Linked DNA regions of Homo sapiens. The protein of the gene in region 2 interacts with the protein of the main gene of each other region in a pairwise test. Each region holds a gene or a part of one and is shown on either strand. Other genes may lie near its edges.

Evidence for each region.
Region 1: the proteins of CNOT6 (region 2) and PATL1 interact in binary tests that used the Homo sapiens proteins (3 or more experiments, as listed by UniProt).

What each region holds. Positions count from the first base shown.
Region 1 is NC_000011.10:59,652,038-59,655,537, forward strand, and holds part of PATL1 (protein PAT1 homolog 1), read right to left. Parts: coding exon 3,486-3,500; intron 2,036-3,485; coding exon 1,946-2,035; intron 982-1,945; coding exon 801-981; intron 551-800; coding exon 427-550; intron 1-426. UniProt on the Homo sapiens protein: RNA-binding protein involved in deadenylation-dependent decapping of mRNAs, leading to the degradation of mRNAs. Acts as a scaffold protein that connects deadenylation and decapping machinery.
Region 2 is NC_000005.10:180,500,879-180,504,378, reverse strand, and holds part of CNOT6 (CCR4-NOT transcription complex subunit 6), read right to left. Parts: intron 1-3,500. UniProt on the Homo sapiens protein: Poly(A) nuclease with 3'-5' RNase activity.

The sequences.
Region 1 (3,500 bases), on a different chromosome or scaffold from region 2:
CTGGACAACAGAGTAAGGCTCTTTCTCAAAAAAAAAAAAAAAAAAAAAAAAAAAAGACAAAAAATCAATGTATTATTTAAAGCAACCCCTTATCAAAATCTATCCTTTCTCTCTGTTACAATAATTATCACAATAAAAATCTGAAGTATTTCCCCCTTATTTATTTTAGGGGTACTGAAAATTATAACACATTTAAAAAATCATGAAATCTCAAGTAGAAAAGGACCTAAAAAGGCACATGTCAAAGCGTTCAGTCCAGACGTGAATAAAGGCTGATTTTTGCATTTATTAAGAACAATGGTACTTTTAAAATCACTTTGAAACATCTTTGCATATCCTTCCACATATACACTTGTCTATATTTAATCACATCAGCAGCTTCTCAAATTTCTTTTATTATGGGCATTTTTCTTATGAGGACCTTACCTGGCTTATAGGCGTGCTCCAGTTTGGCCACCTGAGGGGTGATAAGCTTGGTGCGCTCCTTCTTAGGGCCATCACCTTGTATTTCTTCAGCAGCTGACAGTTTCTCCAGTTTTTCAAAGTAATTCTACCACGAGAAGATGATTTCAGTTGTAACACAAGCACAGAACACGACTGTTGTTTACCATCAAATAATTTATGCCAGTGACAGTAACACAAGTTCAGCTCTAGAAATATACTGATAGTGAATAGTGCAAGATGCTAAGTACCTCAAAAGAAAATTTTACAAATATTTAATTGTACCAATATTTAAATGAATACCCTCACCAGTGTAGGGGACCAAACTATTATCCTCAAAACTAGCACAGAGTATTTACCTGGTAATAAAAATCATCCAGGTAGGGATCAGTGCTTTGCAGTTGCATCATCTGGATTTTAGAGACCCAATCCTTTTCCCGCTGCAACATGAGATTGGCATATGGATCCTTTCGGAGATGATCTTGATGACTGCTCCGGTGACTTCCTCTATCTCCCGCACCATTGAGATTCCGATGCTGACTGAAAAACATACACCACATTCATTCCATGTGGGCAAATTAATTACGCTTTTTAACAACAGAGGAATAAACCAGGCCAGTTTTTTTTTTTTTTTTTAAAGATTCCCGTTTGCTTTTCTTAAAAGGGGAGTGAAAAAGAACTAAGTCTTAATAGAATTTAAGAGGAAAGAGCTATGTAATAAATAATGAAGAAATAAAACTAAGACCTGAGTACCTTACCATATGCTAAGCATATTCACCTATGGACTTTTGTATAAGCTCTAGAATAACTCTGTGAGGTAGGTAGTTTTCTCTTCCCCACTTAAGACAACAAATCGATGCCAAGAGAGATCAAGTAATTTGTCCAAAGCCATACATCTAGTGGTGGACTAAGGGATTTTAACACAGGCGATTTAGCTCTGAAGTCTACATAAATTGTTTTAACTCATTAAAAATCACGAAATATTTCAAATGCAGAGAAAAAGCCCAGCAAATACTATCATAAATATCCATTTACCCATCACCAAGACCCAATAGAAAAAAATGTATTTGGTTGAATTTGCTTCAAATATTTTAAAGTAATATTAAAATAACACAGTGCTACACTGACAGAGGCCCTGTTGTACCCCTCTAGACCCAGTTTCCAGCTTCTCTTCCTTCATAGAGGAACCACTATTATGCCCTTGGTATGGATGTATCCTCCCTGAAATGTTTTTCTACGTTTATTACTTGTGTGTCTGTCTTTAAATATTACACAGTATTATTCCGTGTGCCTTTTAGTTTTACATAAATGGTACATATAATTCTGTTCCTTGCTTCTTTACTCAATATTATGCTTTTCATATTTACATGTTGATAATACATCCAGGTTTATGGATATGAAGTAAACTTACTAAAAAAAACAAAACAACTAAATAGCATGTTGTTACACTGTTAAAATTAAAAGCTGAATTAAGAAGCCATAAAGGAATCGGATGAGTACTTACCTTCTATTCTGTTGCTGTCTCTGATGCAAGAGTCGACGGTGCTGTGGATGGAGGTGAGTTGTGTCCGGTCTAAACATTGGGGCCTGAGATCTAAGAAAAACGGAAAAGAGGTTCTCAGTTTGGTCATCCTGATGACTTGAAATTTTAAAGAATGTTGTCAGTAGAGGATAACTTCATACAGGTTAACTTAAGGGACTACAAAAGTCTATTCGGGATGGGTGCGGTGACTCACGCCTGTAATCCTAGCACTTTGGGAGGCCAAGGCAGGTGGAACACTTGAGGTCAGGAGTTCGAGACCAGCCTGGCCAACATGGTGAAACCCTGTCTCTCCTAAAAATACAAAAATTAGCTGGGCATGGTAGCAGGCGCCTGTAGTCCCAGCTACTTGGGAGGCTGAGGCAGTGGAATCGCTTGAGCCTGGGAGGCAGAGGTTGCAGTGAGCCGAGATCGTGTGGGTCACTGCACTCCAGCCTGCGAGACAGAGTGAGACTCTGTCTCAAAAACATTAAAAAAAAAAAAAAAAAAAGAGTCTATTCTAAGGAGACCTTTTAGAAGCAAAAGATAGTCATATTTTTACATATCTTCTACAAAGACCAAGTTCTAAAAGGGTGATCATGAAATCTGAGTGAATTAGGAGTAAAGCAGTATAATTCTTTTTCTTTTTGCTTCTGTTTAACAGAAGTCTCTAAGTAGGTTTAACGTACTCAGCTTCAACTATGTGGGAATGTCATTAAAGATATATGTGTGACAGTTAATATGGCTAGGCCTTAGTACCCAGTTATTTGGTCAAACACTGTTTAGATGTTGCTGTGAGGGTATTTTGTAAAGATGTGATTAACATTTATAATCAGTTGACCTTACAAAAGAGATTACCCTCAATAATGTGGGTGGAGCTCATCCAGCCAGTTGAAGGCCTTAAGAACAAAACTAAAGTTTCCCAGAAGAAGGAATTCTGCCTCAAAACTGGAACACAGAAATCCTGCTTGAGTGTCTTGACTGCTGACCTGCTATACTTATTTCAAACTCAAGACTGCAACTTGAGCTTTTACCTGTTTCTTGCCTGCTGGTCTGTCTTACAGATTTCGAACTTGTCAGCCTCTATAATCACGAGCCAATTTCTTAAAATAAAACCTGCTCACATGAACATTCTTGCTCTCTTTCCTCTACTGGTTCTCGTGTGTCTCTTGAAAATCCTGACTGCCACAATATGATATGTAATAAAACACAACTTCACTGAAACAGGAACTTGAACCCCTTTTGTCATAAAACCAGAGGATAAAAGCAAACAGCTTAGCTAGTGTGACGATTAGCTGACTTTTCGGCATCTGTCACTGTATTCCATACCCTCTGGTAATGTGAGAAAAATGTGATTCACAAGAAAGCCTGGAGATTGTCAAACATTTCCATGTTTGCCAACTTGAGGATCCAATAACATCTTAAAATTTATAGTTAGCAAATATCAAGAGACTTATAAAACTACACATCCACAATCAAGAGACTTGGCTGATAACTGATAAACAGTGGCGTTGATTTTGTATACCTTAGGTTTTGCAGG
Region 2 (3,500 bases):
TATGAGCAATCAGTTTTGATCCACTAGTCTTTTCCCCTTAAAACTACAAAAGAAAATTATTCATAAAATGTTGACCTTACAAAGCATCAAGAAGCCTTTAACAACACCAGAATCTTACTCTAAGGCCACTGATAATGTTTCAGAAAATTTGAAAGCTATACACTGCTTTTTGACTACAGATGTATAACAGACTGCCTTTTCCAAAATAATGAAATGCTTTAGAACTGAATTTTTGACTAGCATGAAAAGTACTCTTATGTGGACTCTTGGGAGGTTTTTGATCCATAACCAAAAAGAGAATCACAAATATTAACAAAGATTCTGCCACTTAGTACTATTATGTCAACATGATCAACTACTAGTGTAAACGGTTATAAATTTGGGCCAACAATTGGGTTTTCCTATATTATCAAATTAACCTCAAAAGACCATTCCAAGTCATAATACCATGAGAGTGTGTTAAGAAGAAAAAGGGGCCAGGCGCAGTGGCTCACGCCTGTAATCCCAGCACTTTGGGAGGCTAAGGCAGGCAGATCACAAGGTCCAGGAGATCGAGACCATCCTGACCAACATGGTGAAACCCTGTCTCTACTAAAATACAAAAAATTAGCCGGGTGTGGTGGCGCACGCCTGTAGTCCCAGCTACTCGGGAGGCTGAGGCAAGGGAATCGCTTGAACCCGGGATGCAGAGGTCACAGTAAGCCAAGATGGCGCCCCTGCACTCCAGCCTGGATGACAGATTGAGACTCTCTCAAAAAAAAAAAAAAAAAAAAAAAAGGAAGTAGGGCACAGTGTCAGTAAGAATACAAACTGGGGCCGGGGGCAGTGGCTCACACCTATAATCCCAGCACTTTGGGGTGCCGAAGCAGGCACATCACTTCAGGTCAGGAGTTCGAGACCAGCCTGGCCAACATGGCAAAACCCCGTCTCTACCAAAAATGCAAAAAATTAGCCAGGCATGGTGGCGCGTACCTCTAATCCCAGCTGCTCGGGAAGCTGAGGCTGGAGAATCGCTTGAACCCAGGAGGCAGAGGTTGCAGTGAGCCGAGATTGCTCCACTGCATTCCAGCCTGGGCTACAAGAGTGAAAACTCCATCTCAAAAAAAAAAAAAAAAAGAAAAATACAAACTAGAGTCAGACCTGCATCAAGTCCTGGCTTGAAATGATGGGTTTACAATCATCTTTAATGCCTAAATTTCCTCACTTATAAATTGGTGGTATCTATGTCACAATTTTGGTGTGAGGATTAAATGAGACACATGTAAAGCAGCAGAGCCCACTGCACCACCGGCATTCAATATCATTTTTTTTCTTCAGTGGCTATGAACCCCTAAATCTTTGAGTTTCTATAGTTTCCATAAAACTAAAAACCAAATGACAATTCTTTAGTCTATAAACTATAGTTATCATTGTCATAATTTTAGATTAACAAAGGAAACTACTGGTCTAAAACATGGCAGTTAGCTTCATCAAATATTGTTTTATGATGCTGAAGTGTTTACTTAACAACAATACATAACCTTACAGAAGAAAAATATTTGCCTCCCAAAAGGCTGAGTGCAATACAATTTTTGATTTAACTTAGTCAAGTCATATCTTCATCTCTGTTTGGTTTTTAATTAGGAGAGATTACTAACACATCTATCTCCGTATAATCAAAATCTGCCTAGTAAAACTATATACAACCACTCAATGCACCTAATCACCTGTAATACTCTGTATTTGGATACACAGAGCCACTGGCTAATTTATTAAGTCTCTATGTGTTTGTAGCAATAACTTGGAAAGAAAATGACCATGTCTAATGATTTCCTCTTTGCTACTATTTTACACTTAAAACCGCATCAAATATTTAACCAAAGTTTGGGCAATGGAGCACAACATAAGTGCAAACCTAGTATATGGCATATGAAAGCAAATCTTATCCTTCTAGTAACTGAAGGCTGAAAATTGTAATATTATGAGTTTACATCAGATAATCTCTACCGCTAATGAGGACAAATCTTCTTCTTCTAGTAACTGAAGGCTGAAAATTGTAATATTATGATTTTACATCAGATAATCTCTATCGCTAATGAGAAAGAGTTTTTTTTATTGTTTTTGAAATCACATAAAATTCCGCAGGCAAAACAATTTTGTATCACCAAATAAAAATGCAATAATTTCAACCAATAGATCAGGGGAACGTTTGGAAACATACACGCAATATACATTATAAATTTATTTCCAAAGTTTTGGACTTAAGGAAACAAAGCTGGTGACTAACACAGGTGCCTACCTTCTCTCGACCCTGTCTCCTCTTTAAACTATTACCCTTCTTTCCTTCTCTTCTAGTTTAAATTTTTGCAAATAGTAGTCTATAACCTTCTTCATCTTAACCTCCCATTTGCTCCTCCGCCCAATCTACTATCTGACTTATATATGCCCTGGTCCCATAAAAATTTTCCCTGCATTCATTCCCCCACCTGTCAAATCCTATCAACCCATTTCCAGATCTCATCCCACCCTAAACCTGGGCACAATGATGACTACTGAAAACTCCTTCTTTCTTGGCACTATGACCTCTCTCGGCATCTGTAGCGTTACTCTCTCCTGTTCTGCCCTTGTCTCTTCAACCATTTCAATGCTGTCCAAAACAAAATATTAGCTGTTCCTTAGGGTTCCCTTAGTCCTCTCCTCTTGTGGTCCATAAGTTTCACACTTGCATATATGCATACTTTCATTCCCTTCAGCAGAGTCCATAATTCTTAACTGATTCTCAAATGGAGATCTTACCTCTGTCAAAAGGGTGAAAAACATTTGTTCACACACTCTTCCTGAGTAATCCCCTAACTTCCAATGCCAACTATACAATGACCAAATCTATCAAACCCCAAACCGCTCTCTGGTCCAGATATCTGTTAGACATATCCACCTAAGTATCCAGGAGGTATGTCAAACTTAACAGGATCAAAAATCAAACTATTCTACTTTCCTCGTCCAAATCTGTTCTTCTGTTTCCCAAGTTAAATCATACCAACAGTTCTCTAAGCTAAACAAGTTCTGAATCATACTCAACTCTTTCCTATTTTTATAGCTCATGGCTAGTCTGTCCCTAATTCTGGTATCCTGTGCTTTTCTATCCCCTATGCTGATGTACTTGAGCTCTCACAGGACGTAAATGAACTCTAACTCCTTTAATCCAGCTTCTACATTTTCATTATGTGCCTCCTGAAAAAGTATGTTACATGAACCACTTGCTCACCCATATCCACCTAAACTCTCACTGGATTTCTATCATATACAGGAAATCTCAACACTTTAAGAAAAACCCTACAACTATTCACAAGCTGTTTCTGACCACTCTTCCTGTCCCTCTCATCCCTGTGTCTTATGCTCCACAGCCCATGTTGTTCCCAATATGCTGTTCCTTCTCCCTGTCCTACTCAACCTAACAAATCCCTATCCATCCTTTAAAATCCAGCTTAAAGACCTCTGAGATGACTCCCTGGGTTTTCCAA